5 linked regions of the Homo sapiens genome follow. The protein of the gene in region 1 purifies or fractionates together with the protein of each later gene. This does not show direct contact. Each region holds a gene or a part of one and is shown on either strand. Other genes may lie near its edges.

The links.
Region 2: the proteins of SALL1 (region 1) and SALL3 purify together in Homo sapiens (affinity purification with mass spectrometry; one large-scale study listed by BioGRID and IntAct). This does not show direct contact.
Region 3: the proteins of SALL1 (region 1) and ADD2 purify together in Homo sapiens (affinity purification with mass spectrometry; one large-scale study listed by BioGRID and IntAct). This does not show direct contact.
Region 4: the proteins of SALL1 (region 1) and GRHL1 purify together in Homo sapiens (co-immunoprecipitation; one large-scale study listed by IntAct). This does not show direct contact.
Region 5: the proteins of SALL1 (region 1) and FOXP1 purify together in Homo sapiens (affinity purification with mass spectrometry; one large-scale study listed by BioGRID and IntAct). This does not show direct contact.

The regions. Positions count from the first base shown.
Region 1 is NC_000016.10:51,143,496-51,149,644, forward strand, and holds part of SALL1 (sal-like protein 1), read right to left. Parts: intron 1-6,149. UniProt on the Homo sapiens protein: Transcriptional repressor involved in organogenesis. Plays an essential role in ureteric bud invasion during kidney development.
Region 2 is NC_000018.10:78,977,591-78,984,479, reverse strand, and holds the start of SALL3 (sal-like protein 3), read right to left. Parts: upstream 4,663-6,889; 5' UTR 4,206-4,662; coding exon 4,124-4,205; intron 1-4,123. UniProt on the Homo sapiens protein: Probable transcription factor.
Region 3 is NC_000002.12:70,759,910-70,766,058, forward strand, and holds part of ADD2 (beta-adducin), read right to left. Parts: intron 1-6,149. UniProt on the Homo sapiens protein: Membrane-cytoskeleton-associated protein that promotes the assembly of the spectrin-actin network. Binds to the erythrocyte membrane receptor SLC2A1/GLUT1 and may therefore provide a link between the spectrin cytoskeleton to the plasma membrane.
Region 4 is NC_000002.12:9,964,164-9,970,312, reverse strand, and holds part of GRHL1 (grainyhead-like protein 1 homolog), read right to left. Parts: intron 6,079-6,149; coding exon 5,967-6,078; intron 5,027-5,966; coding exon 4,932-5,026; intron 1-4,931. UniProt on the Homo sapiens protein: Transcription factor involved in epithelial development. Binds directly to the consensus DNA sequence 5'-AACCGGTT-3'.
Region 5 is NC_000003.12:70,951,960-70,958,129, reverse strand, and holds the end of FOXP1 (forkhead box protein P1), read left to right. Parts: 3' UTR 1-3,422; downstream 3,423-6,170. UniProt on the Homo sapiens protein: Transcriptional repressor. Can act with CTBP1 to synergistically repress transcription but CTPBP1 is not essential. Plays an important role in the specification and differentiation of lung epithelium.

The sequences.
Region 1 (6,149 bases):
CCATGACTTCCAAATTGAATCTCCCAGAAAACTTGCAGAAAACAAAGTAATTGCAGATATGAATAAATGTAAAATCAAAATGCTGCTTTTTTCAGTAAACTTAAAAGTCCGTTGGAAAGGGTCAGCTGTTTGCTTTTTTGTAGTAAACATTTTTAAAAACTTGACTAGTTTTGCATTCCAGAAAATAAAATTAATACCTAAATACTAACTTCTGGAAATTCCTTAACTCTATTTGCCTTGAGTGATGCCGAAGTTGATTAGAATCCCTGGTGAAGTATGCCAAACGTACGCACACTTTATTCACTGGGAGTGTTATTTGAGTAGCTAAGTTATACTTAACAAGCTAGCTTTCCTAATACCCATCTTTTAATCTCCACAAGGGCATAGTGCAAGATGCATTAACACCACCAAACAAATCTTAGTTGCAGCAGAAAATACCAATAATGATTTGGTTTTAATTTAATGTTTAAGCATTCTAATTGGCACTGGATTCCTATGCACATGGAAGGTGCTGTTTTAAGCCCTTTCTGCTTCTCCCCTGCCTTAAAATCATATAAACAAAATATTAGATGAAATTTGCTGAAGTTATATTGCTTAACTTGGGACAAAAATAATGTGACAAAAATTCTCTTTAAAGCTTCTTATTTTGACAATCAATTTTAAATGATGCATCCATTTCAGATGCTTATTTTAAACTAGGAAATGCAATTCCTAATATATTCAACAGAAATGTTATTTCTTTCTCTTTGCACATTTCCATATGTAATGGTTATGTTTCCATCTACTTTTACAGCCAATTATGAAGGAACAAAAGCTATTCTGTTTGTTCACACATTTTCAACAAAATGCATTAAAACTATTATGTCAGCATGTTCTATTAAGCTCTGCATTCAGTGGAAAATACTTTTCAACCAGCTCACATTTATCAAAACATAAAGCCACTTTAAAACACAGTTTTGCTTGGTCAGCTGGGCTTAGACAAATAATGACAGATTCAGAACTAAATAACTAGCAAGGGAAATCAGAAAACTGACTTCATCAATTGTACACATTACAATGTAGTTGCTTCAAATATTTAGCACATCTGTGCTCACGATTAAAAGAGATTTTAATTCTTTATAACTTGCAAACATCTGATATTCTCATAATATACAGAGAAAATAAAAGGAAGGTTACTTTACAGGATTTAGCTGATTATTACTTTCCTGCACTCAAATTCTGCATTTGTGCTGCCTCGAGACTCACTTGAGAATTTTCAAGTTTTTCAATCTAAACATTTTTATATTTAGGATTGTGCTAACTGGATGGAAAATATAGATGTTTAAAAATAAATGCAAATGCCTGCTTGCTTTTAAGAGACTGTGTTAAAAAGTTGTCCATATTTTAGCTTAGGTTTTCACAACATTTTTAATAAGCTGACATTTGATCTCACTGTAGAGTGAACTAATTTAATTTCCTGATGTTTATGAACACCCCCACATCCCCAAAATACTGGTATCTATTTTGATTTATTTCAAAAGCAGGTGTCGCTACACTGCAATAATTCTTAACTTGAAATCTATCTGCATTCGGAACAAAATTCCAAGGAAACAGTCTTTTACTTAAAAAAAAAAAAAGACAAAACATGAGGACTAGTTGGACTCTTTACCAAAGGGAATATTTTAATTTGTAGTAAGATACACACACACACATACACACACATTCTCTCTCTCACACACACATACACACACACACACACACACACACACGTACACACGAACATGTTATAATTAATTTTTCTGATTGTCTGCTATCTTGTATCTCTCTCAGTAATCTGTTACACAAGATTGCAACTGGTGACCCCATTATAGTAAATACAGTTGCCTTGTTCCTTGTACTATGGTGAAAATAACATTCCTGTTCCTTTTCTATGGATTTTGCATACAGATTATTTTGTAAGCAACCCTAGTCAGATAGCAAAATTTAAGAAGCAGTGGTTTTCTAAGTATGTGCACACAAACAGATATTTGGAATTTTCTGGGCCTTTTGTTGGGGGGGCGGGAAGAGTGATCTTATACCTCCACCAAATTTATACTAAAATCCCAGATGCTTTAGTTCCTGTTGTACTATTTAGGTACCTGATGCCTAATTCAAATTTGTCAGTTTTTCATCATCTGAACCAAACTGCAGAGTCGGAAGCAGAAAATTGAAGTGTTCTACCATATCTGTCTACTGAGAAAATAAAAATAAAACTATGTCCCACACAGAAAGGTTTAGCCAGCCAGGAAGGGAAAAAACAAAACAAAAAACAAATGCAACCACCTTACTCTACTAGGTTTAGTTTTCTTTTTTGGAGCTCTTCAGAAAGACACTTCACTGTACTTCCCATTATCTTAAGATTGCATTTACACTCCCTAATAGAATTTCTCATGATAGTGGTTTAGGAGTCCTTAATTTTAACAGCCTGTTCCTTTTTTTATCACAAACATATTTGATTGATTGGTCTTTTTTTTTTTTTTCTTTTTCTTTTTTTTTTTTTCTGCATCGACCTGGGAAAAGTCTGAATCCAAATGGAAAAGTCTGAATCCAACTTAGGATTCCAAAGAAATTTTAAACACTACGACATATGCTGTGCATATTTTCTGTGATGTCTAAAGTTTCCTCTATGTGATATGCCACCAAATGACAAATTTCCTGGTACCCTTCAAGTTCACTCACTGTTCTGACGGGGATTAGAGTATTCTCTTGTGGAAGAATACAAGTGAAATCTCTGAAAAAATAACAACATGGACGAGGCGTTGCTTTTAAAATAGTGATCCAAGCCCACCTAATGTACACAATAAATGAAAGGGGAAAATGTCTTTCCCATGGATGAATCAAACTGAACACTAGATGGGGTTCCAGTTGCAAGGGTTTGTTCAAAAACTTCTTTGTGGCTTTCCTATTGCAGTGACGCGTAAAAAAGAGACTCCTTAAGGCGAGATCTAAACTTTGACTACATAAACATTGGCAAAGGCACAAGAAACTAAATCCCTGTTGTTTGAGGGTAAAACTGAGCTATGGGAACTACCTGTCAATCTTCCCCTTTGGGGGTCTGGCATCTGAGGGTGACAGGGGAATAAGGTTAGGAAAAGACGCCAAGCTGATAAGGTGAAACTAAAATAAACTACTAACTTCCTGCTAAGTGACTAGCAGGATTCAATTTGGGGGTCACTGGGAAGATACTGAAGGACATATTATGATCTGGACCTTGTCACCTTTGCATGGGAGGAGGCTAGCAAAGGTTAAAACAGCTTGACACATCTAGGTTTTCTAAAGCCTGGCACATAAACTTTTTTCTTTTTTGGGGGGAGGGGTGTTAGTTCTTTGGTTAACTTTCCACCTCTTTTGCCAAACTACTTCAGTTTTAATAATCTAAGAATATTTTTGGAATATTCTGGTGCTATCTGCACCAAGAAGTGTCTCAGAAAAACCTAGTTGAGGTTGTAGAAGGAGTTTATTCTAGTTCCTACACAGAGCTTGGCTTTTGACAATTTCAAAAACTTAACCAGTCTGCCTATTTCTGCCCCAGTAAGATCTCCACCATAAAAATGTGGAGTTCTACCTTCTAAAAGGTTCTGTTGGTAAAGACAACTTGCTACCTCCAAAAGTATAAAGAAAACAAATAGAGCCCCCAAAGAAGAACCTATACGTTGGCACTTGTGCCAATGAACTCTAGGGGAAATGTGATGTAAAATAAACCACAAAACATTCAGTATCACATATTCACTTTCACACATACTACCCTCATGCCTAACTAGACTTTGCTCATTTATGTGTTTGTTTTTTAATATTTTACAAAGTATGTGTGGCCTGAAGCAAATCACAAAAAAAACAGTTTGCATTTTCTCATTCAGAATCTTCCATTATGACAAACTTAAAACAGCTCTGATTAAACATGAATTCTTTCCAACTGCCTTATCTTGCAGGTGTTGGTTTTTTTTAAAAAAAGCAATTAATTACAGTTCTCGCTAACCTTTTGGGCCCAGAGATCAATGTGTTGCTATGAAGCTGCTCAAAATGAGCAAATTACTTCGGTTAAATAATAGAATTTCATTATTAATATAAATAAGAGGAATTTTTATGATACTTCATATGATTGTTAGTGTTTTATCTGCAATTCATGGTGTTTCATTCTTCCAATATTATCTTTTCCTTGAAAAAACTGAGCACCAAAATACTTTTTAAATAAATGAATGGAGTCTAAATGGGCCATCCATGTAGAAGTTACAGGAATCTTAAAAACGCCACCAAAGGAAGAACTCCAACACACACACACACACACACACACACACATGCACACATGCACTTACGCACACAAAACACATAACTGAAATCCCAATTTGTAGTAAAGAGCCCACATATAAAATCATTAGATTGTAATATTCCCTTTCCTCAGAATTATTTAACTTGATAAACAGTCTTTCCAGTAGCAGTCATCTTTCTGCAAGTAATTCAAGACTTGTTGAATATCATTTAGGAGACAAGTCATATTTGCCATAATCTTGGTTTCATAAGAAGCAGAAAAATTACCAAGTTTAGAGTGTTTCTGGCATAGCAGCTGTACACTAAAGTAAAATAAAATACCAGCATCCTGAAATCGACCAAATACTCATTTTTGTTTTTGTTTTTGTATTTTGTTTGCATTTGCTTCAGATGAAGCTGTCTGTGTGGCTCCTTAGCATGGTCTGGATTTTCTTTGTAAGCACACACACACTCAAACACACACAGGCAGGACACACAACACCAAGCAGCCCTAGCTGCTTTCAGCTTTGGGAGCTGCTTCTTTAGGGCTCCTGTAACTTAGGTCTACAAACTTTTCTAGGTCTCACTCTGGGTAGAAGTCATACAATCTGAGGTGCTGATAAATGAGAAGTGCATGAACTAGATTTAATTTGGTATGTTTCATATTTCATTTGTCATATTTCAAAGACCATCTCAAGACATAAGAAAAAGTAATCAGAATGTTTGAAAAGGGGCTTGCCTTCTAAAAATATAACAATGTTTCTTTACGTAAAAAACAAAACAAAACAGAAAATCCAGCTACTCCTAGAAGTATGGGTTATATGTGGGGAGAAGAATGAGATTGCTGAACTCACTGCAGAAAAGGTGACTTTTAAAAGGTAACCTTGAGTTATGTCATGAACTTTCAATGCCATTTATTTCAGAACTACTCCCAAATAAAAGAACTGGAGTATGTTAGGCCCTCCTGTATGTCCAGCGTTGGGGGAGGATTACTTGTGTACTAATATTATTACAACACACTAAATCCTGAAACCCTATTACAAAATCTACCCTCTAGGCAACTTCTCCCAAACTTATTGTTCAACCATGTAAAAACAGTCATAACCTAAAACCATTACTACTGAAGAAAAAGAGGAGGGGGTGGGGAGAGGTGAGGAAAGAAGGCTGGGAGGGGGTGTTTCCTAGGGAGCCCCTAACAGTTTACTGCTTCTTTAGGACAATGTACCAGCTTTTGCGAAGAAAAAAGAAAGGAAGGAAGAGAAAGAAATCAAAAGAAGGAGAGAAAAGAGAAAGAAAGGAAACTTGATTGAGTTACTTAACTTACCTCAAAGCTCAAATAAACTAAATTGAAAAAAATAGTACTAATAAAGAATAATGGTAAGAGGTAGTGAACTCCTTTTATATTATTGCTTTATGAGAAGACTTAACTATTAAAAATTCCTGATACTGAAGGCAAAAGGCAAAGATCTTCCACGCATCATTTCTCCTCGAAGGCCGAGACTTTTTTTTTTTAAATGTAGAAAACCAGTACAAATTTACAAAACACACTATATAATGCTCTCTTATCTCTAGTTTGCTTTTTTGTGTACAAACTGTTAACCTGAACAGTTTTCCGGTGCAAAAGGTCTCACCAGAAACTTTAGGAAAGATGAGTGTGACTGCGGGAAGCAGAAGAAACTAAGCTGAGAAAACCCGGAAAAATACTCGGCGCAGCTGCTGCGGCCTTGGGTCATCTCACCTCCATCTACCCCGCGTGCTCGCTTTCGCTTGGGGTGGAAAGCGGGGTTCAGGGGCTCTTTTCAGCGGACTGAGAAATCGCAGAGGCCGTGGGTAAGGATTCAAGCTTGAGGAAACACTGGGGGCCGGGAGGAGGGCTATTGTAAAGC
Region 2 (6,889 bases), on another chromosome or scaffold:
TACTGAACAAATCATGTAGGAAAATAAAACTAATAAAAACAAAAAATCCTTCCTGTTATATTTAAAAGTTATGCTTCTTGAAACTATCTTGCAGCACTGAAAGATGGTGCATATCCTCATTAGAAGTGAAAAAGATTTTTATTGTACTTAAATAAAAGCTGGTGCCAATACTTTTAAGAATGCTAAATTCCAACTAATGGTCAGCACACAGAATAGAAACCCTGGTTGTGCTTTTGCTGAATTCCCCCCAAAAGAAAATATTCTTAGGGCTACCTGGAAATGAATGGTACAGCTTCTTAGAGATTGCAGTTGGAAATGAAATTTGACCCACTTTTACCATCATCTTGTATACAAAAAAGAATCAGCTTGCTAAGTAATTCCTGCTGTTACTCCATACCTTTTTCTGGCTTTGAACAACAGATCTAAAAATATTGGATAATGCATATGCCATGGAAGTTGAAAACGTACTGCACATAAAATTCGAGAACTGTTACATAATCAGCTCTCTCTCTCTGCAAGCTGGGAATTAATTGGTATGCTTTTTTGTTGATCACAGAAACGTGCACTTTTAAATAGGTTAAGTTTTTTAATGTTGTTTTTAAAAGAAATGTTGGCAAAGTCTTCTTTTCCTCTCCCCTCACCCAACCCGGTTACTTACTTTTTACCTTTCATGTTTCAGAGAAAGCAATCTGCCTGTGAATGTTAGAAAGTAGCTCCTGCATTGTTCCTTTTGGTATGCTGAATTGTAAATGTGTGTAGTGTGCTGGGGGAGCACTGAGGGCAAACCATGCATATACAGATAAAAGAAAAAGATCCTGCGCCAAGCACTGGTGGCCGAGCTTCTTTCCCTTAATTCAAACACAGTCTGTGAAAACCACTGGTAAATTCTTAAATCACATGCTCAACACATTTAAAAGGATTTTTAAGACAGCCATATACTTCTAAGTTGGCAGAAAAAAAAACACACTTTGAAGCAATTAGTGCTAACAAACAAAATACAGGATGGTAAATGGTTTTAAATTATAATACCCTTTTGTTCCTTCTTAAATACATATTTTCTAACAACAACAAAATACATCTTTCTTAAATTATATTTTATACAATAAAGAATAGCAGTATTGTATCTTTTAAAGTTCTTAGTGGGCATATAACTGTCATTGGAAGTTTTAATTAATTTTTCTTAGAACAAAAATATTCAGCTGGCTCACAGGATTACTAGTGGCGCAAAGTTCACTGGATCCTAAAGCTGCAGCGCCTTTCTTCTAAAATAGGAATGAGATCATTTGCAAGTAAGTAATTTTAAAAAGCAATTTCTGTTAGGAATGTCTCAATGACTTAATTTTTTTTTTTAACAAAAGCATGACTTTAGAACTTTACATAAATTATCCTTACTTTTTCTCATTCTAGACACGTCATGTTTCATTCCTGTAGTGGTAAGGTTTGGGTAGCACCAGTTATTTTTGTATAGAATCTTTTCATTGCTTCAAAAATAAATCATAATTCTTTTTTAAGAGATACAGGCTTTGTGCTGTAAATTAATGTGAGTGCATCTCTGTCCCCCATTATACTAAACATTTTTGCATAGAATATTTGTTCTGCAGGACATTATCAGTAGCTTTCCATTTTACTGCATGTAGATGGACCTGCTGCTTTAATTAATATGTCACTCCCCGAGTGATACAAAGGAATTATTTACCTCGTTTCTAAAACACTAAACTAACTGAGCTCACTTGCAACTTCCGGCACGGTCTGTTTATTTCCATTGCATTTAACAAAATTAAAATTTTGAGGAGATCTGACTCAGGTTGGAGTAATTTGGTTTCCACACCCATTTACCTTTTTATAATTTTTACTTAGTTATCTTAGGAACGATGCTGAGTGCGACCGAGTAATACACAAATGGGGCATTCCTTGACTTAACACGGAACAGAGTGTCTGTTATGCTCCTTGAACAAGCTGCTTCGAATATAATTAAATGAGAAAGAACTTAAAAAAAATAGTTTGCCTAAACTCTCTCAAACAAGCATGTGAGCTGCTCGACCAAGACTCGGCCCCACACAGGGTATTTTGGGCCTCTTGCAAAACATGACCAGGAACTGTGGCAACGTCTGGATTACAATTCTGGATGCTGTGAAAAACACAGGCTTGACAAGAACTTCAATTCTACCACGGGTAAAAAACCTGAATATTTTGCATCTCTAAATAAATTCGAGCAGCAACAAGAGGGATTCAAAGTAGAACTTGTGAATAATTTATCCCATCTTAGGCTTTCAAATATAGGCGATATAGCCCTCCACACGTTTACACTATTAAGTTCAGCATGCTCACATTTCTGAAGTGAAATTAAAAATGAATAGCAGTGCCTCAGCTTGTTAATTGTTAAATACCAGGGGGTTTACTCTATTAATTAAAATATGCTTTAATAAAAGGAGACATCGCACATTTTGATACCGACCCTACAAAGCTGAGAAGTATTTACATTGTTGCATTTTGGGGCGGCTGTGAAAGCCGATTTTAAGCCATTCAGGAGCCACAATAATAAAGCTTTAAAATTCCTCACTGGGACGCAATGTAGTTCTTTTGAAGGAAAGACTGTCTTTCTCATTCGGCAGAAATAAATCCATTCATTTGATCATGTAGTCATTGAGGGCGATACAAAACAAACCAAGTGTGAGAAATTCTATGTGATGAAGTAAACAAAACAAAAAAAAATCCATTTCCATGACAAAAAGATTCTTTGTCCTTAATCTACCCACCATATGCAAGCGTTTCTTTTTAGCATATCGCCTGTTCTCATCTTGGCTGACTTGGCTACACAGATAAGACTCCCTTACCTCCACCGCAACAAAAAGACCCCAGCGAGCTCACTAATTTTATTTAATTCATTAATTCTCCAGCCGCGTCATAAGCATGCTCTCTCGTTCTCATCCGACATGGGTGTCTACCCGCTTTGTCAAACTTTACTCCACTGTGTGGGAAACTCTTCCGCCCCGTTTCCTTTTCGCAGACAGTCTCATTCTCAGAGTAAAAAGATCACCATCTGCCTCCAACAACTTATAACAGGTCAATCATAAAAGTTGGCCTGCCTGTTTTTTTAAGGAGCAAATTATTTTACTGCGAGCTGTGCTGCGGGCTCGGGGTCGTGGGGTCGCCCCTCCTCGGCCCTCTTTCCTGGCGCCCTGGGGGCCCCGCGGGGCGCGCCGAAGCCCGGGCGCCGCCGGCCGAGGTTTTGACTCGACGAAGGGGGTGGGGGCGCCCCAAACTTTGCGGGGCTAAGGCGCCACTCTGGGAAGTCCAGCCCTTTGCCAGTCTCTTAACTTTCGCGGCGCCTGCCCTTTGCTCTTGGATGTTTCGAAGAGGACGCTCCTACCAGCGAAATGACTGCAAAGCCGAGGTCTCCAGCGCCCGGCCTCGGCGGATCCAAAAAGACGGGAGAGAAAAGGCCCGCGCAGACGCTGCAACGAACGCCCCGGAAACACGCCGCGAGCAGGGGCCAGGCCCAGGCCGCCGCCGCTGCGCTCACCCCCAGCTTAATTCCCCGGGCGGCCATTAGGCAGAGCCAAGCCCCCGACCTTCTCCTCGCCTCGCGAGGGATCACAGGCTGCGTCAACGCGCTGGGACACCGCGGGTCACCCGAGGCGGTGCGGGGGCCCGGGAGGGGCCGCGGGCCCCCGAACAAAGCTGGCCGGGCGGCGGGGTCCCCAACCCGCGTCCAGCGGTAGGTGGGCTGCGGTCGCCTTCCCCGCCGCCGCCGGCCTCAGCGTCCTGGCGCAGAGACCCTGGGGGGCGGCGCGGCGGCGGAGGCACCGTGGACTCCCTCCCGCCCCGGCCTCCGAGCCGTCCTCGAGCCGGCCGCGGCCTCGGCGCCCTTCGCGGGCAGCTCCCCGACTCCGAGGAGAGGAGCCAAGTTTACTTCGCCCACAACTCTCTCGGCGGCCGCGCGCGCTCCGGCGAAGTACCCGGGGCCCCGCGGCCGGCCTGGCGCGGGGCGGACGCTTGCCCGCAGGAAGCAGGGAACTTTCTCCCGCTCCCGGACGCGCGCATCCGCTCCCGCCGCACGCGCTTCCCCAGCCCGGACGGGCAGCCCCAGACCCCCCGGCCACCCCGCAGCCCCGGCCCTCACCGTGCTCGGGAGCCCCGTCAGGCGGCAGCAGCTCCTCGTCCGACTTGAGGTGCTGGGGCTTGGCCTGCTTGCGCCGAGACATGCTGCTAGCGGCGCTCGGGCCCCGCGCGGGGCAGCGGCATCAGCGGGGCGGCCGGCGGGGACGGCGCGGGGCGGCCTGGCGGGCGCGCGGCGCGGGGCGCGGGGCGGCGGCGGCTGCGCGGGCCGCGCATGGGGCTGAGCAATTAGGCTGGTGAATAATGCATGGCCATTAGCGGAGGGCCGCGCCGATTGGCCGGGCTCCAGCGGACTCCGGCGGCCTATGCAAATGAGGCCGCGCTCGCAATTAGCGGCCGCGCCGACGAGGAGGGGGCCGCGGCGCCTCGGGACCGGGGCGCGCGCTGCCCGGCGCCGCCTCACATCGCGGGCTCCGGCGCCGCGCTCCTCGGCCGCCCCGGGTGCGGCTGTGGCGGGGCCCGGGTGCGGCGCGGGCCGCGGTGGCCGTCCCTCCGCAGGGCGCAGGCAGCAAACTTTGGCGGCGTCCGCGCGGCGCCGTCTCCGCCGGCGCGCCGGGCTCGCCCCTTTATAGAGTGTCTGCGCCGCCGCCCGCGCCCCCCCCGCCGCCGCCGCCGGGCGGCCCCTCCCGGAGCGAGCGGCCGCGGGCAGGGCTCCGACCCGGCGCCTTTGTCTCGCCCGGGCCGCTCGGGCGCCGCGCCTCCTGTTCCGGGCGCGCGGGGTCGGCCGGCCGCCTTCGCTGCTCCGCCGCGGCTCTCAGCGCCGCTCAGCGCGGCGGGCCCGCCCGGGCTCAGGTGCCCCCCGCTCTCCGGACCTTCTCGCCCGGCCCCGCGTCCCCTCCGCGGGCTTCCCCCGGCGGCCGGCCGGGCTCGGAGGCTCGCGGCCGGAGCGGAGCGGAGTGCGCACGCCGGGGTGGCAGGACTTCGGCAAGACCAACTTTCCGGTTCGGAAGCGGCGCGGGCCGCGCGGCTCCTCCCCTCCTCTCCCTCCCCTGCGTTCCCCCTCCCTTCCACTCCCCCCTCTCCCCGCCCCCCAACCCGCGGGCCCCACCGACTCCGGAGCGCCCGCCCCGCCCGCTGCTGCCACCGGGCCGCCTCGCCCCCGCGCCAGCCCGCCTGGGCCTCTGCGCCGCCGGCGGCTTCTTAAATACAGGAAAGGGAGGGGACCGCAGGGCCCCGGTGTTCCCCACCCTAGTCCCCCTTCACCACGGGCCACCGGGCGCCAGCGGAGTGGGCAGCGAGCGCGACCGAAAGTTCCAACTCCACCAAACTCCCGCGCGCGGCCCACCCTTTCCCGGGATTTCGGGGATGACACGGGGGCCAGGTGAGGGGGCTGCGCACTTCTGGATCGGCCCCACACACTCGGCCCCTGGCGCGGCGCGCTCCCCGCACACGCGCCCGCCCCCTCCCCGCGGTCACACGCACGCGCCCTCGCCCTCGCCCCGCGCGCACAGGCGCGTACTCCCACCCGCGGCCGTGCACCCGCCGCGCTCCTTCCCGCGCGTGTCCTCTCTCCCCGAGCGGCCGCCAGGATGTGCCCCCGGCCCCGTCGTCGCCGCGCCCGCGCCCCTCGCCCCAGTACGTCTTTTTTCGTTTCCTAAATTTCTTATTTTTGTCCTTGCAAGTGGTCCTGTCTGGTGTGAACCGTCAGCACAGATGGCCTCCTGGAGCTTCCCCGAGTCGTTCGCTGGGGGAAGCGGGCGGTGAGCGGCCAGCCCGGGCGCTCCGCAGGCCGCGAGCTCCCGGCAGGGCTGGTGGCGGGGGTCCGCCTGGGGGAGGAATCCCCGCCTGCTCCATCGGACCCGGCCTGGCGCGGCTCGCGGCGCTCGGCGGGCTCCCTTCCATTCTAGAATCTTCCCGCTTGCTTCCCAGCCCGCGTTCTTCCGCCTGCCTTTAATTGTGTAAGTTTGACGAAGTCAGAGCTTTGGGTTCCAGGAAAAGCGCAGGAGGGTCATAGAGGAAGGGAGGGCGCAGGTTGGAGTCAGGTCCAAACAGTCCCTATCGCCACTTTTGAAAAAAAAAAAAAACAACAAAAACCCTTAAGGTTGGTTTTATTTTGCCTTTTGGTAGCGGGCGTATTCATTTAGATTTTTTTTTCAAGACAGGCAAATAAAAGGTGTTTGAAATCTCTAGTTATCCCGTTTAACACACCCATCGATGGCGCTTTTCTAGTTAAGCTACGGGGGAAACGTCTTTATCCCGCAGTTAGGCTGCGAACTTGTGCAGATGCTCAGGCTTTGTGGAGACGCTCCGGCATCTGGCGCAGAGGCGCCCGGCGGGGAAAAGTTTGCAGCCCGGGCTTTGGGGCGCGCGGGGGGCAGGAATTTTTCTGAGAAGAGAGGGGCATAGAGAGGCGGCGCGGGTGGGGAGAGAAAAAAGGAACGCAGGGGGGAGGGGGAAAAGCAGCTTGCAGGATGGGAGTTTCTTGCAGAATTTACAGGATTAAGGAGTTTGGGGAAGTCGCAGAGCTGCAGCGGAAAGGCAGGGGTCTGAGACTACTTTTGAGAAGAGAAACAACGCAAAACGATCGCTGGAGGGCCAGAGCCCTGGTCGAAGGTGCCCTAGCTTTTATGACCTGGTTAATTGTGTCTCCTTTTTATTTTTATTTTTTTCCTTACCACTACTACTACTACTACTTTTATTTTTTTTTAACCGATACACTTTGGAGAGAAGAAGCAGACACAGGTTCCCACGGCGTCTGACGCCTGCGGAGCAAGTCCAGAGCCAGCTGGACTCGCAGCCTCTGGCCCGGCGGCACCAACTCCTCACTGGG
Region 3 (6,149 bases), on another chromosome or scaffold:
CCCACTGACCATACCACAGCCCATCTAGCCCTGTTTCATTGAGCCTGGGGATACTAGCACTCAGCTGAGAGGACACCACTGCTTCTTCCCAGGAAAGCCCCTTGTTGATACTCATGGGCTGGGTGATATTGGCTGGCACCATCTGTACTCTAACTTTTACAGAGTCCTTAAAGAATCTAGGCCCAGTGTTTGTTCTCTTCTCTAAAACTCAAATCGATGTTTTCCTTACTATATTTGTCTTTGGACACTTTGAAGAAAAGAAAGGCAAATATTTAGGTCCATGGTGCCATCTTGAAACCTACACGTGCGTGTTTATAACCCTGAACCTGCAACTCAGATCTCGGGTCCCAGCCATGACACATGCATACGTCTGCCTCTCTGCTGGCCATCCCCACCTCAAACTCGTCTTGTCTAAAACTGACCACTGTCTTACACAAACCACTTCCTTCTTGGCTGTGCTGGATTCCCCAATTTAGAGCACCAAGCAAAGTAGGGCTCCAAATATTCTTGGAATAAATTTGATATATATTTTTTGAAGCATCAAAGTAGTCACCATGGAGATGTTATAACAATGAATAAGATACAAATGGTACAGTTCTAATTTTTTAAAGTTTCAGAGAAACAAGTCTGATGTACTTTGTTTGAGGATGCAAATTTAGATTATAAAATTATAAAAGCAAGCAAGAAAATGGTTACCATAAAAGGAAGGTGAGTTGTTACCTCCAGGGGGAAGCAGGGTGTGGTTCAAGGGTGCACTGGGCTCTGGGAGCTGGCTGTGTCCTGCTTCTTGACCTGCATGGTGGTCACACGGGCATTCACTTTATAATATTTCACTAAACTGCACATTTGTTTCATGTCCTTTCCTATATCTGTGTTATGTTTTATATATTTTAAGGTTTTTTTAAATAAAGTAGTCATTACAAGGGAAAGAAACAAAACTTTTGTGGACTTTCATAGTTATTTTGATAAAGTTGGCCACAACTTATCTTCCATCATACAAAATGCCAGAAGACAAAAGAATAATATTTGGAGTTTTTAGGTAAAAAGATTAAGATGAAGAAGTGTATGCCCCAAAAGGATGATGTTACTGTGAAACAGCAACATAAAGAAGTTCTTAGGCAAGCAAGAACTACCGGAATATACTATCTTTCCTGAAAAAGATTCCAACTAATCAAGGAATAAGTAAAAATGAAGATTGAGCATAGGAAATGGACTGAGTATTGTAACCTATGTAACTCTCAGTCTAGATAGCAGCTGTTAGTATGGTTAGGAAACATAAATGTCAAAAATAATTCTGGAAAGCAAAAGCATGCATTACTTTTTTTTTTTTTTAAAGACAATAATCTGGATCTAAAAGCCAAAATGTTTTTAAGGCAAAAAGTTAGTGGGGGTAGATGGGCAACAAAAAAGAAATTAAAGCTGGGCACAGTGGCTTACACCTGTAATCCCAGCACTTTGGGAGGCCGAGGTGGGTGGATCACCTGAGATCAGGAGTTTGAGACCTGCCTGGCCAACATGGTGAAACCTGGTCTCTACTAAAAATACAAAATTAGCCGGGCGTGGTGGCAGGTGCCTGTAATCCCAGCTACTCAGGAGGCTGAGGCACAAGAATCACTTGAACCCAGGAGACAGAGGTTGCAGTGAGATGAGATTGTACCACTGCACTCCAGCCTGGGTGACAGAAAAAAAAAAAAAAAAAAGGAAGGAAGGAAGGAATTAAAGTATACTAAATCTCTCATTATTTATGAAAGAACAAATAGACACAACTTTTTTTTTTTTTGAGACAGAGTATCGTTCTGTTGCTCAGGCTGGAGTGCAGTGGTGCAATCTCGGCTCACTGCAAGCTCTGCCTCCCGGGTTCATGCCATTCTCCTGCCTCAGCCTCCCGAGTAGCTGGGACTACAGGTGCCCGCCACCACGCCTGGCTAATTTTTTGTATTTTTAGTACAGACGGGGTTTCACCATATTAGCCAGGATGGCCGATCTCCTGACCTCACGATCTACCCGCCCTGGCCTCCTGAAGTGCTGGGATTACAGGCGTGAGCCACCGCGCCTGGCCAACACAACTATATTTTTTAATGTTAATGAAGACTAGTAGAAAAAAATGGGCAGAAAATTTCCCTTTTATCTAAAGAACAAGGGACTCTTACACTACATTTAAGTTAAGAAAGGGGGTGGAAAAATAGCTTGGAATTTTTTTAATGTAAAATAAAATTTTAGAAGATCTGTGACTGTATCACATATAATAAATGTAAATTGAGTCACAATTGGATTAAAAATCCAATTATGATGCTTAAAATAGACAAAAATCAAAATGACGTAAAAGAAGAAAGCTTAAGAAGAAAGAGAATGAGCATCACACCAGGGAAATGGAAACAGAAAGAAGGCAGGACCAGATTTCTTATCACACAGTAAAATTTAAGACAAAAATAAAAATACAATGAGACAAAGCAGGTCTGGAAATATGGAAGATTCACCCCACAATGGAGAGTCAAGGGTCACAACATTTGTGTCACAGAGGATAACCAGTCATCCCCATTTGCCTGGCACTGTCCCAGCTTTAGCACTGAAAATCCCTCATCCCAGAAAACCCATCAGTCCTGGGCAATCAGGGCCCTGAGTAATACAGCATCAAATATAACTATGTAAAAACATATAAAATATACACAAATACATGTTTATATATATAATTACATAATTATATATCAAATAAATATATAAATATAACTATATTATATGGATTTAAAGGGCATGCTAAAGGACATAGCAAAAGGAAAGCGGTCAAAAATTTCATTTTCTTTTTTTTTTTTTTGGAGATGGAGTTTCATTCTTGTTGCCCAGGCTGGAGTGCAATGGTGTGATCTCGGCTCACTGCAACCTCCGCCTCCCGGGTTCAAGCAATTCTCCTGCCACAGCCTCTGGAATAGCTGGGATTAGAGGCGCCCACCACCACACCCAGCTAATTTTTGTATTTTTAGTAGAGACGAGGTTTCACCATGTTGGCCAGGCTGGTCTGGAACTCCTGACCTCAGGTGATCCACCTGCCTCGGCCTCCCAAAGTGCTGGGATTACAGGCGTGAGCCACCACACCCAGCCAAAAATATCATTTGAGACTAACATCTTTTGTATTCTTTGACAGATCACTTAGGTACAAAGAAAAGTTTAAAATAAATTTGAATAACATAATCAATAAACTCATTTAAATCTATACAACTGAAGTTTAGACTCCACAGAGGATACACTTTCTCTTCATCTCTTTCAGTAACATTGGCAAAGCTTTCCTATGTAGTTTATCTTGGAAGACAGACCGGGATGAAATCTTTACTAAAAGCCTGCCATTCCATGAGTGCTCTTCGAGTTTGGAAGATTTGGTGGTGGTTGTCATTGAAGACAGGCAGTTTTTCATATTATTGCTTTAAAATTCTTTCAGGCTAAAATTGTAGCAGCCAATGTATGTGGAGTCAAATATTGTGGCTGCAATCTCTTCTAAAGATTCAAATTTCTATTCCAAGAATCTGTGTGTGTCCCTGTACATAGTTCAAAATGCTTAAACTATATAAACATCCCTTTTGGCAGAAAAAATTTCTCATGACCTCATGGTTGACCTAAGTCACTTTTATTAAAATGTAACTTAAATATGTATACTCATAAATACCAGTTCTAAACACCTATGCTTTACAGCTTTTATATTATTAAAATGCCAAAACAATGTACAAATACAACTATCCACTTTAAAATATCAAAGTAATAAAATTAATTTATTGCAATAGGTAAGTCTTTCACATGTAACAACTCATTCTTATAATATCACCATGCAATCAATGCCATATATTTATTCCTATATTATTATAGGAAATTGAGCAGGAGAGAGGTTGAATAACTTGCCTAAACTCTCACAGCTAGTAAGTAGAAAAATAATTTTTGAAGTCAGACAGTCTGGTGTCACTTAACCATCAGAACAAATTACCCATCTCATTTTCTTTTCTTTTTTTTTTTGAGTTGGAGTCTCGCTCTGTTGCCCAGGCTGGAGTGCAGTGGTGTGATCTCGGCTCACTGCAACCTCTGCCTCCAGGATTCAAGTGATTCTCCTGCCTCAGCCTCCCGAGTAGCTGAGATTACAGTTGCCCACCACCATGCTCAGCTAATTTTTGTATTTTTAGTAGAGATGGGGTTTCACTATGTTGGTCATGCTGGTCTCGAACTCCTGACCTCAGGTGATCCACCTGCCTCGGCCTCCCAAAGTGCTGGAATTACAGGCGTGAGCCACCGCGCCCGGCCCCATCTCATTTTCTTAGATGTAAGGTACCTATTGGAGAGTTACTAAATATGCATTAAATGAAGATCTAATTCAAATATTGTTAAAATCCACAACAGCAACTTTTCTGTTGTGTTTTTACTACATCTGCTGCTAATAAATTGCTGCAAACTTGATCCATACAAAGATGAACTGGCGTGAGATCTTCAATCCCTGCCAATAGAGCAGTGGTCGCCAGGAGCTGTTCTTTTGGAGTTGGCAAGTTGTGTGTGTCCTGTGTAGACTCACTCTCTCCACTATTCCAACTCCCCTTCCCTTCACCCAGGCTGTGGCTGGAGCCACCAGGCCTGCCCATGGCTCAAATGGAAAGATACAAAGGCAAACGCAGACTCCAGCATCAGTTTCAGCCTTGCCATCAAGATGATCCAGAACACATTTTTACTGCTAATTATTTATGATTATCACTGGAATAGGCCAGGCATAGTGGCTCATGCCTGTAGTCACAGCTACTCAGGAGGGAGAGGTGGGAGGATCGCTTGAGCCCAGGAGGTCCCGGCTACAGGGAACTATGATCATGCCACTGCATTCCAGCCTGGGTAACAGAGCAAGATCCCTACTCAAACAGTCTGGGTGACAGAGCAAGATTCCGCAAAAAAGATTATCACTGGAATAAAACCACTAATGTCAGAGAATACACAGATCTTTCAAAATACGTATATCTTCAGAACCCCAGGGGGCTGAGAGACCTGTGGCATGATATCATTAGCTCATGCTGAGGGCCATTGTGAAAAACAACCCTATGAAACTTGTCCTTGTGTCTGATGAGGAGGTGATCGAAGGCATCATTTCAAACACTATGTCACATTAGGAAAAAGTTCCTTTCTGGTCTCGGAATCAAGAACTGTTGGTTGGGCAAAGTGGCTCACACTTGTAATCCCAGCACTCTGGTAGGCAGAGGCAGGTGGATCGCTTGAGGCCAAGGATTTGAGACCAGCCTGGCCAACATGGCGAAACCCCGTCTCTACTAAAAATGCAAAAATTAGCCGGGCGTGGTGACACGCACCTGTAGTCCCAGCTATTCGGGAGGCTGAGGCGTGAGAATCACTTGAAGCCAGGAGGTGGAGGTTGCAGTGAGCCGAGATCATGCCACTGCGCTCCAGCCTGGGCAACAGAATGAGATTGTGTCTCAAAAAAATATAAAACATAAAAAATAAAAAAGAATTGTTGTGTTTTTATGTTCTGGCCATATAATGTTTTGTGTTTTGTGTTTTTCCCACATAGCTGTTATCACAATTTGTAATTATATATTCATTTGAGAGATTTCTTGATGAGTGTCCATTTCTTGCATTTGTCTTTAAGCGCCCATTAGACACAGACCACGTCTATCTGCTTTATCCCTTTGTTCCCAGTACGTCTTACAGAACCTGGCACGTAGTAAGTCCTCACTGAATGTTTGTTGAGTGAAGAAGTGTGTGAATGAGTTTAACAAATAAATAAAACATATAAGCCATGGGTTCGTCAATTTCTTTTTTGCTTATGCTGCAAGAAAGTTTAGAGCTGTTTTTGTTTCCTGCCCGTAGCCATTGTAGAAGGTCTCATGCTCATGTTTTTGTATCAGCCTCACGCTTAAGACCATTTTATGACTCCACCCTTAGTGTCCTTTTTTCTTTCCCAACTACTTCCAAGTTAGGCTGCCTTGCCATATTTATGAATCCCTGTAAACTATCTTAAATCCCTTGTGGAAGAGGTGGTAATAAATAAATATATCTACTAGTCTTTTTTATATATATTTAAAATCTTAACACTAAACCCACTGCCAGCAAACACATTTGCTCAACTGTTAACCTTAAGAATAGCTGAGATTTGCTAATTCCAACACTATACTAATATTTAA
Region 4 (6,149 bases), on another chromosome or scaffold:
GCACGTGTCTGGCAGAAAGTTCTTGCTGTTAACTATTTTTAAAATTAAATGTGTGAATGAAAGCTACAACATAATTCACCTTACAGTGTAAGGATTTAGATGTTACCACTGGAAAAACCTCTTATTTTATATTCCCAGGATTCATTACATCCTTTAAAAGTGTGCTTACTGGCTGGGCACGGTGGCTCATGCCTGTAATCCCAGCACTTTGGGAGGCCGAGGCAGGTGGATCACGAGGTCAGGAGATCGAGACCATCCTGGCTAACACGGTGAAACCCCGTCTCTACTAAAAATACAAAAAAATTAGCCGGGCATGGTGGCGGACGCCTGTAGTCCCAGCTACTCGGGAGGCTGAGACAGGAGAATGGCGTGAACCTGGGAGGCGGAGCTTGCAGTGAGTCAAGATAGCGCCACTGCAGTCCAGCCTGGGCGAAAGAGTGAGACTCCATCTCAAAAAAAAAAAAAAAAAAGTGTGCTAACTATTCATGAAGGTCATACCTATGCACAGATGATCAGAGAAATCCTGCAATTTCCTTTGACCGCAGCTGTTTTCCCATCTGCCATACTGGGTAGCTGACTCTCTCAAAGGTGTCCCTACACCACCCCCAGACATCCCCTCCTTTAGTGCCTACTGGCTCACAGGCCTCCCTCAGAGCTGGCTGGTTTTCACTGGATTCCAATACAGCAGCTTTTTAGTTTATAATTTCTCCTCTGTGCTTAAATGTTACTCATCCAACTCAAACGTTATAATATAATCCAACATAAATTATTTCTTACTAGCAAAGGTGTTCTTATTTATATTAGTGAGTCCATAATGTTGCTCTATTAATAGTAATACCTACATTTTTAAGTAATCTTCCCTGTCAAGAATGTTTTCTATCCATTTCAAGGTCTAGAGTTTAGCTTCCTCAGAAGGCCTCATTTGGATGTCCAAGCACCAAGCACGTAATAGCATGGAGTACTGGGTGCTTTTTATGGGTGCTGGGCAGGCAGCCATGCCCCACTAACTATGGACATAGGTGAGGCACCTTAGCACAGCACCTAGCATATAACAGGCATTCAAAGAAGTTAATTCTCTCTCCCTAACTTCTTTTTCCTCTGTTTATTTTAGATCTTCAGGCTTCGAGAGGCCCTTGCTTCTTATCACTCAGCAAATCTCAATGCTGTTGTAGACTCTTAAGATTTACAACTCAGGCAAGAAATTACACTCTAGGCCAAGATGCGCAGTCCATTCAGTTCAGCCTATTCTAAACTCGCTTGTTTTGGAAATACTGAAATTGTTGCAGAACAAATAGCCCCAATTTATAAATTGCGTTCCCAAAGTTCATTTTTAAAGTGGGATAAAAACATTTTTCCTAAGAAAACATGATGTCATATTTAAGATCTCAGGCTGTCCCCACAAATGGGGACACTTATGCCACTATCTACCTGGCCTGCGGAACTAGTGGCAGGAGCCTAGATCCAGCCCACGCCTTGTCCACAGCAGGCTCTCGGATATGTGCTGGGCTCAGTTCTGAATTCCTGCAAAGCTGCATCGCTGGCTCCAGAGAAAATGTTGATCCAGCTGAGTCTATGTGTATCTTTCTCCCATCTCGCTGTATGCACCCCTCCCCTCAGCTCCTAGGCCTCTCTTCTGCAGGAGACCAGTGCCCTCATCTTGTCCTGCAAATCCTAAACTTCAGCATCTTACCAAAGCTCCATCTTTTAATGCTTCAAAGGCAATTGCTTCTTCTCTCTGCAAAAATTACCTCAAGCAGCTAATCTCAGCTGTGCATCAGGAAGAATACTGATTATTTCACAATGAAATGTGAACGCCTCATGGCCTTTAACCTGTCCAGAGACCTCTGACTCTTAACTACCCAAACAAATCTAATTTTGTGGAAGGACAATAAAAGGAATGAAATACGTCTACACAGCAGACAAATCCCACTAAGGGCCTGTTTCTGAGACATTTCTGCTTTTCAAAAAGCAACTTCCTTCTCTTCCACCACTTTGAAAACGAACAAATTTTCACAAGTTCCAAAACTTCCGAAAGTTTCCATGACAATGGCAGACATATGTTTATGGTGATGAATGGAGTGCACACAGGGCCAGTGTAAGATAGGTCCTAGCTTCGTCAGTGTTTTTCCCAAAGTGGAATGTAAGCCAAAGCATTCACAATTCAACCCAAAACATCCTCAAACTATCATCATTTCCAAACGGAGAAGCAGAAGCTACAGGTAAGATTCAGATGTTGACAGATTTTCAGTTTTACTCATCCTGGCATGGCCAAAAGGGTACATTAGAGATCACTAAAAGGGGAGGGGAGGAAATGCCACATAGCTCCAATAAACCCTTATGTTTGTGAGGGAGAAAGAACTGGAAATCATATTAACAAATACCACATAAATATGTACAATTATTATGTGCCAAGTATAAATCTTACAATTAAAAAAAGAAATCAACAAATGCATCCTAAATGAGAACAAGAAAGTGGGCAAAGAAAGTAGATATTTTCAGAAAACAGTAAAAAAAAAAACCAACTATACAGGATTCTGCATGTACACTTGTTCACTCTTGCTGCCCTGAGGCATTAATTACTTTAAGAATAAAAACAGAAAACATCAAGTTGGCCAGGGAAAGCAAAAAACCTCGATACTTAATTAGAACACATGCTTGAAGTTGCTGCCTGATATCAGCTTCAAAAAGACAGCAGCCTCATTAAGAAATGGCACAACACCCTTCTGGCGGCAGGCAAAGGCTTAAAATCACGTCAGTGCTGGGGGTCTGAAAGGGGAAATGAAACTGAGTTTACCTACATCAATTAGCAATGCTATTAAGGCTACTTAAGCCACTCCTCCAACAATATTTCTAATACAAATATGCTGCAGGCCTTCAGAATAAAACAAGCCATTATCCCTACCCGTCATCTTGGCTTTCATTACTCCCACCCCAAAGAGTGACACATCAAACAAACAAAGCGCCCTGCCCATGCGCTGGGCCTTTCGGCCAAGATCTCCAAGCCTATGACAAGCGCTTATTAATCCTGACCACACCCAACGAAGAAGAGCTGGCCACTCTAACCTCGTGACTCTCCTGGGGGATCAAGGGGAAAGGACTGAGCTAGTGAACTGAGGGACTAACCCAAGGTCATGGATAAGTTGGAAAAGGGAACTCAGGACTTATGGGCTCTTTATCGCCTCCTCCACAATTTCTCAGTGAGGCCCCAATGGCAAACAGCAAGTAACACTCCAGTTTGCTTTAAGAATAAAAGCATCCTGGGGCACAAGGCCAATACTTTTCATAGGCTGTTCGTAGTAGCCAGTGGACTGAGTCCTATTATGATATTTAATTTCAAAACAACTGTAACAACAATTATATAAAATGGAAAGTTTCTCTATTTATTGCTTAGCCAAGCAACAAACTCCGGACTATGCAGCCACCTGACAATTGTATGTGACTGAGGTGGTTGGCAGGAAAACCCTTCTAAAGCCACAATCACCTAAAGCTTCCTCACTGCCTGGTGGGCCCAACTGCCTAGAGTCTGCAGCCTGAAAGGCACATGTTTGTCTTGGACATGATGACAACGATAAGAAAGAAAAGCAATTATAATACAAGCAGAACATGGCTCTCAAGACCCAGTCACATGATTTTCAAAAGCATTCTGGGGCAGGATAAAATGAAACCCTAATAGTCAGCACCTAATACAGTGTCTTATTCTAAAAGTTACTAAAATTCTTATTGAATAAATAAAAGAAAAAGTAAAAAACAGAGACTGAGAAAGGACAAGAAGATGAACATCACTTCTTTCTACCAGGTCTCTGAGAGAATGCTATACCTAATATTGTAAGGAAAACTAAAGATCAGTCTTCTGTTAACAACTGTCTGAAAAATCACCTATGTTTCTATTGAGTTTTTTTTTTCTTTTTTTTGGGGGGGACAGGGTCTCACTCTGTTGCCTAGGCTGGAGTGCAGTGGCGTGATCTCAGCTCACTGTAACCCCCGTCTCCCGGGTTCAAGCGATTCTCCTGCCTCAACCTCCAGAGTAGCTGGGATTAGAAGCGTGTGCCACCACGCCTGGCTACTTTTTGTATTTTTAGTAGAGACAGGGTTTCACCATGTTGGCCAGGCTGGTCTCAAACTCCTGGCCTCAAGTGACCCACCCGCCGCAGCCTCCCAAAGTGCTGGGATTACAAGTGTGAGCCACCACTTCTGGCCTCTATTCAGTTTCTTGAGCTCCCAGTTTTTAAAGTAATCCAAAGAAAGAAAGAAATACAGGAACTCTAATAATTGAGTGGAGAAGGATCACACTCACAGGGAAGAAGGCAGGGGCAAGGCAGAAAGGACTTAGGAATATGCTGAATTTTTCTTCAAGGGCACAAAAATTCCCATTAGAGTCGCCCACAAGGAGTAACTCTAGCCAATTAGAGTTACTCCAACTGAACTGGAGGCAACTCTTCAATGGGAAAAGCCCAAGACAGAAGAATCTTAACACAGAGTCATATTTACAAGGTGATGATATGAAACAGAGTACTACTAATAATCACTTATATTTAAGAGCCTTTCTCAAAGCCACTCCAACAGTTTGATGGGCATTGTTTCATTACTCCTTACACCTCCTTCAATAGAGGGAGGAGACAGATATCACCTCCACTGTGCAAATGAGGAAATGAGGCAAAGCAAATGAGGAGTCAGACTCAAGGCTGAACAGGCAGGAGTGGCAGAGTGCAACTTAATCTCAATGTTTCACACACTGGACTCTGTGCAAAGGATGGCAACAAAAATGATCTGTTTTGGAGGAGGGGAGAATAAAAAGGGAAGAGGATAGTTTCATAACACCTGAGAATGAAACACATAAAACTGTGAAAAAAAAAAAAATCAGTTGTCAAATCATTAAACTCCTCCCATTTCTCAAATGGCTGGACATAAGGCGCCCAGACCTCACCACCCACCTTTGCTTCATCGTTGATGTCCCATGTGAAGGAAATGGCGTTATACGCAATCTCCTCGATGTTACTGATAGTGTTGAAGCTTTCTTTATAGTCAGCTACAGGAAGCGGTGGAAGAGAAAATGAAAACTCATGAGTCTTAGTTTCAACATGGGATCCCAGCAGTTCAAAATAAGATCTAGTTTTTAGCATTATCACCTCTGGACAATTTAAATTAACATTTTGTTCGATTAGAAGAAGTTCAAAATACGAAGAAAAAGAATCACAGAGTTTTTGTAATAGAGGCAAGCTTAGACATATTTAATTCAATCTCATTATGTCACAATTAGGAAATTTAAGTCTAAAAAGTTTAAATAACAGTCCCAAGGTCACAAAACTACTCTGTAGAACCAAGATTAGAACTGAGTTCTCATTCTCCTGAAAAGGAAACAAGAGCATTACAAAAGGTAAAGAAAAAAAGTAACACTAATATTAAACAGCCATCTGTGATACAGACAATGGTTTTACATGAAAATTACATACATGGCAAGAACAGAGGTCTGTGTAACGCTACTTCAGTAAATACAGATTTGCACAGGTTTGCCACTACAGCCCACAGAGAGGTTAGTTACACGGTTTAGCACGTGACTAGGGAAGACTGTTAGGCAACTGCACAGCAGCAATATCTTTCTTTTACTTGTTTTTTTCTCTACCTCCATCATCTCCAAATAATAATCAGAATCTTTTAAAGAAGATATTACCCCTTAAAGCAATTGCAGACTGAACAGTGGGGACATTCTCAGGTTAGCCAGCTACATGGCTTCTGGCCCTAGTGTCCTGTGGAAAGCCACCACGTGGGCACATGTCCCATTACTGCATGGGAGCAATGGTGAGAGCACTGGTTCCAGGAGGCCGAGGACAGTGTTTGGAACAGATCAGTAGCTGGCATAAAAATTCAAATGCTTTCGGCAGGAAGCTGATCACTGCCAAAAATAATTGGATTTAGAAAACTGGATGGCTGCACCTCTGGGAATAAAAGCGGGCTCTTGAGCTGCTTACCTATGTCAATGCATCTTTGTTTAGCGGTGTGCTGCCGGGAGTGCCAGTACTTCCAATGCCTTAACTGATCTTCTCTGCTTTTGTCTTCAGCAAAAACCACCATGATCACACTCTGTGAAAGAGAATGCATTACAACATAAAGACACTAAAGGGTGAGTATGTTTTGGAAAACGTATTTAGTAC
Region 5 (6,170 bases), on another chromosome or scaffold:
AAAAAAAAGCTCATATTAATTAGACTGACAATATGGCCTTGGAAGGCTCTCCCTTGTGGAACCAAGTTGCCATGGGCCTTGGGTGCTCTGCGATAACGGGTGTGGGTTGGTTTTGTTTGCAAAATGGCCAAAAAAAAAAACCGGCTTCCCCGAGCAGCTGCCCTGAAAGTAGGGGTGGCGGCGGCGGCGCTGAGTTTATACATTAGTTCAGACCTACTTGGTGGCATTAAACTGTTTGAATGCAAATTCGATTTCAGATTGAACTTGTTAAGGGAGTTAACGAGGGCTGAGTTCAGCAAATGCTAAAGTGTTAATTTCAAATATGCAAATTTGGTACTGCAGTTTGTTATGCAATATTATATCACCAACCCAGTATCACAAAAACTCATAGAAGATATCATGTAGGCCCTGGGCTTTGGGGGGGTCCCAAACATGGTATGCAGAAATGTGATGGTTACAGGTCAGTACAACCTCAGTCCTTAGAACCCCTCCACACTTCAGCTCTGCACCCACTTTCCTGTCATTTATTTATATAGGACTGTAGTTTTTTTTAGTTCGAGAGCCTTTCGAAGCTTAATTTATATTCTTTCTTTGTACCTTTTTTCTAAAATTACCAAAGATATTACACAAAGGTAAATTATGTTCTCTGTTTTATGCTTTATCTGATGAAGCCAAATATCCTCTTATTGTTGATCAAAGGAGGCAAAAGAATTTAGAGGCAAATGACAAGCGATAGGCTATTGCAACCTGAGAAAGAGAACTGCTCCTTCATCGTAAATTTAGAAGACCAAGTAGATAATGGAACCAAAGTTGTTACTTTTTTCTAGTAGTTATTTTTCCTTTTTCTTTTTGTGTACCTCTACAGAGACCAAAACTCATTCTCTTAAAGAGATTTTATGGGGCTACTGCAGATAAAAATAGGACACAATATTAAAGGAGCTACAGAAGGAAGGGAGTCCCATCTCAAAAAAAAAATGAATGTATGCCACTGCAATTAGAGTATCCAATAAAGGAGACAGTTTAGAGTCAGGACAGAAAAGCTTCCATAATTGAACTAGATTACATAATAGTATTTCTAGAAAAAGAGATATTTTTAGATTGTATGCCACTTTTGTTTAAGAACTGTGCTGTGATCACTGTATTAATTTTGGTTTATCTTGGCATATATCCTTCAGTTTGTTTTTATTTTTAATTTTTCCTTTTTTTCCGATTAGGCTTTGGTCAGCATTTTTCATTTAAAGAAAAGTAACACTCCCATCCACTCATAAGCTTGGTACAAAAACTTCTCTGGCAGTTACTTTTGAAGCTTCACTCTGCTTTCTGTATAAAGGGCAGTCTGTGGTCACGCAAGACTTTAAAAAAAAAAAAAAAAAAAAAAAAAAAAAAAAAAAAAAAAACTTTTCCAGGCAGCTTCATGATGTGCAGGCAGTAGCCAGACAGGGTCATGGGAAGGGGGCCCTGTGCTTCTAAACTGAGTGGTTGCTGGTTAGTTTGGTATTCAAAAGAGGATAAAAATCTGGTAGATTAGTTCATTCTCAGCATGTGTAGCTAGACATGAGTAAAGATAACAGCATGAGAAACTGTTAGTACGCATACCTCAGTTCAAACCTTTAGGGAATGATTAAAATTTAAAAAAAAAACATTTCACTCAGTTGCACTTAGTCGTATGTCTTGCATGCTTAGTCTAAAGACTGTAGCAAAAAAAAAAAAAAAAGAAAAATTAGATTTTACATATCTTTGCAGGTATCACAGCCTTGCAGAAGAACCAACTGAAAAAAAAATTCTCAGGCTTTACAGCAAGCAAACTTCACTATGATTTTTACAATTCTGATTCTGTATCCCCTGGGGGTTATCCCAGTTGCTTCTTTAGGATGGGGTTTATTACGTTGTACATATATCCCGATGTGTCTGTGTGAATCTTTGTCTTTTTTGGGGGAGGGCAGAGGGCGGTTCTTTTTTTAGATATTGTTCCTAAAAAGGAATAAATGCATACACCTGTTTGTCAAAACACCTTTGCTTTTTGTGCAACTGCTTTATATTAACGATACTAAAAAAAAATAGCTTTGGAAAAAAAACTACTGTATGTAACGGAATTGCAGAATATGCTGCACATGTATTTTATTTAGTTATCCTTGCTTTAAGAATATTGGATGACATTTCCTGACATGTGGGAGGGAGAAACTCCCTAACTTTTTTTTTCTGCTTTTAAACTGTAACATAGTTGAAGATTTCTTTTTTCTGTTCTCATTGATTGGAGCATTTTGTACAGGTTTTGTGTGTGTGTGTGTGTGTGTGTGCGCGCGTGCGTGTGTGTTAATCTGTTTTTTGATACATTCCTATCCCTTGTGTTTATCCTACCACTGCCTTCCTGGCTATCTTAAACAAGTTCATACATTTGAAAAGAAAAAAAAATGTTGTTTAAAAAATGTTTTCTCCTGCTGCAGTAAATATTTTGCATGATGAAATTCCAGGGTCACACTTTTCCAAGTTTATCAGTGAAGTAGTGATTAACAATGGGGAGTGTCAAAACTATTGAACTTTTGTATAAAAAAAAAAAAACTTTACAAGGTGCCAAGATGTAAAGAAAATCTGTTACTTTTTTTTTCTCAAAGAAAAGCATACATTAGGGAGGTAGTCCCGTGTGTCAGACAAATGCACTGTCAGGAATGAGGATCCAACCTACCTGTCCCTAGAGTCCGTCTTGTAAGATGAGTTAGGCTGCCCCTTGGACCAGCCACAAAATGGAATATCAAGGCTTATGTACATACGTGAAGAGTTACCACCAGTCCTGCCACCTTTGGACAGCTCTAACACCATCCCCAGCATCCAGTCAGACCTAGTAAAGAAAACCTTGGATTCTTAACCCAAGATAGGCTGTAAATCACTAGCTTTTTTTTCCTCATGAAAAAAAATAGAGTTAAAAAATATTTCCTCTCTTTTCCATATTCCAGCTGAACTCCGTTTCCAAAGGCACAAAGAAGAGTGTGCTTATTCAGATTTTGAATCTTTTTGGTACCTTTTGGTTAATGACATAGCCTCCTGAAATTCTGGATGTCTTCAAAGTCAGTTTTGCTTCTTTATCCTGAAAATCAGATTTACAATGCTGAAGGCATTTCTTGGGCCCAGTGTAGCTCACGCAATCTCTGCTACCCATAAGCCTTGATGAAGATGATACAGTCCGGACTGTGAGCATGGTGCTTCATGTATATGTGCTGCCAGTAACAAGAATTTTTTTGTTTTGTTTTGTTTTGTTTTGATAAGGCATAAAAGAAACTCATTCCTTGACATCAACTGTAATTCCATCATTCCATGTCTGCGGATACAGACAATAAAAAAAATGTTGTGTAGTCAGTACTAATTACTGACATTATAAGCATTCTCAAATGCAATAAAAATGCTGGTTGTTCACGCTGGTAGTAAAAGTTGCCACAGCCTAAGTTTGTTTCCCTTTCTGACCTGCTGATATTGTATGTTAGGCATATGCCTTAGGTTTATCACCAGCTGCTTCCAATGCAGAATTAAAATCAATCTTAAAGCTTTCATGATCAGGGAAGGCTGAAGCTCTTATCCTCAGGATTTCCAAGTGAAAGTATCCACTTAGAGAATTGGGAAGTAAAAAAAAAAGAGCAAGAGATGTTATCTTTTCTCTTGAGGAAGCACACTCTTATTTTTTTCATCAAATTTTATAAAGAAAAACAAAATGTTTAATAACTAGCATTAAGAGCAAACTAAAATTTCAGAGGAAAGCAATTTCATGAATAATTCATTAAAATTTCACATCTGCAAGATTAGTCATCCAAATAAAATGCTAATGTCAAAAACATGCACCGTCTATAATATTCTCATCAAGAAATCTTTTTGCATATAATGATAAATGCTTAGATTAGAACAAATGATTTTATAAAAATATTCTATCAAAAGTATGCTAGATAATTGCATTCATTGAAGAAAACAGAACTTCAGTACCTAAATATTCCAGAAAAACCATCTTAATTTTGAGATTTTAAAAAAATAATTAGATGCATTTAGGAAATGTGCTGTTTCTTTTTAATATTACTCTATAGTATATATTCTAGGGATTAATGAATTTGAGCATCACCTTTCAATAAAAAATTAAATTGCCAATATGAAAGCAGTATTTTAAGTGGCCAAACCGTGGTAACATAAAACCATTACATATATAATTCAGAGCACATAATTCAGGGCAAAGGATGACTTGAAAATTAACCTCCCAGTCTTTATTCTGCAAAACACCCACCGATGCTGAGGATACAAGTGAACATTCTTTCCCAGCATTGTTTTGAAAAGCCCATATTAGCAAAGTTGTGTGTGTGTGTCTGTGTGTGTGTTTTTAACAAGTAGATTTTGCTATTAAGTTGCAAACTAGTGTCCTCTTTGAATTAACAATTATGCCCTATCTAGAAACCCCTTAGTCTCAATAATTAGCAAAACATTTGAACCTTTAATTCTCACCTGGCTACTGAGACTATAATCTTAGGGTTAATTCAAATTCCTGTAATTACCAGGCTTAAACCTAAATACTGCTTACAGCCTATACATTAGTAAAATTTAAAAATGTACAGATACTTCTTTTAATAAACTGGAGGACCTAAACCAAGTATGACGATATGTTAGTGAAGATTTTGCTGGTTGAGGCATAGTACATTTTAACTTATATTTCAGGAATTGTTCTCAAGCAGGAACACTCTTTTACATATTTATTTCAGGCTTGTCACTCTCATAAACGAGGCAGCAAACCCAAAATATTGGCTCTTCTTATAAATAGGCGCCTTTATATAAAGAACATAAAACTCTTAAGACTAATTTCACACCAACACAGGCAGCTTCATAATAGTAACCACCTCTCCCTCCCCACTAAAAAAGATAAAAACAAAGTATAATTAGTCTTTCTTATTAGATTTTTGTCTTTGATGATATTACGTATTTATGTGTAGGGTAGTAATCACAATTTATCCTTCATCTTCATTGTAGTTGAATCAAATAAAAGTATTCTTTATTCAAATAATGTGAAGTTGGGTGTCTCAAACCTTCATTTAATGAATTGATGAAAGGTTTAAGACAAAATTCACGTTGGAGGGAAATTAAGTTACATACAAAAACACTGGTTTTAACTGTGGGACAATATTTGGATTAGAAAACCATCTCTAGATATAACCTACTTATATTTATTTTTAAATGGTATTTTATTTTTTAAAATAACAAAACCCAATGTTGTCTTATTTCCACTTTGATTGTAAAATGACATTCAATGCTTAATACCAAAATATATATATATATACACATTTGAAATTATCAACGGTCCTTTTTTTTTGGTTTATATTGAAAATATTGTGAAGGGAAAAAGACAAGCTTCAAGTTATAATGTTAATTTGAAGGTAACCGGCCTTTCAAGAATTAATTTCAGCCAAAGCAATAATCATTATTTACCAGCGTGTGACATTTTTATCACTCATCATATTAGCAAATTTCCATTGAAAATGCTAAAATGGTTCGTCATAAGGCAGATAACTGCTCGAGCTGTAAAAATGACCAACACAAGTGCCGGTACTCAAACATTAAATTATACTGTAATTAATAAAGACAGTTAAACTGTCTACTAGCAACAGCAATTTAGGTAACCACATTTGATCGGCTATAAATTGTAACTACATTAAAATTCCAGAAATATTAGCAATATGGATTACTTGATGGAAGTCAGTGCTGATCACCAACTCTTTCTTTCTTTCTTTCTTTCTTTTTTAAACAACGGAAGCACAGGTCATGTTGACCACAAATCCGTGGGCGAAGATCAGGCCTTAGCACTTTTAATCTTGTGAAACAAGCAATTACAAATAGTTGCATCGATTTGTTAAAAAGCTTTAGGTGACATAAATTGTTTCCTGTTTAGCTTACTGCTCTGATACATAAATGTCACCAAGCCCAGTATTAATTAGGGCCATAGAACAGCAGAGGGTGGCCGATATGGCATCCAATCAAGAATTTGTCAGTCCTTTGTGAAAGTTCTGAAGGGCTGCTCTCACTGGCTCATTTCTCATTAGTGACAGAGAGAGAAAAGGAAAACTATTTTGTTATGCGAAGTCTTTAATACCAGCTTGATTTTGGGTTTTAAACTAAATCGCAGGATTTCAGACTTGCTTTCTTACTATTGG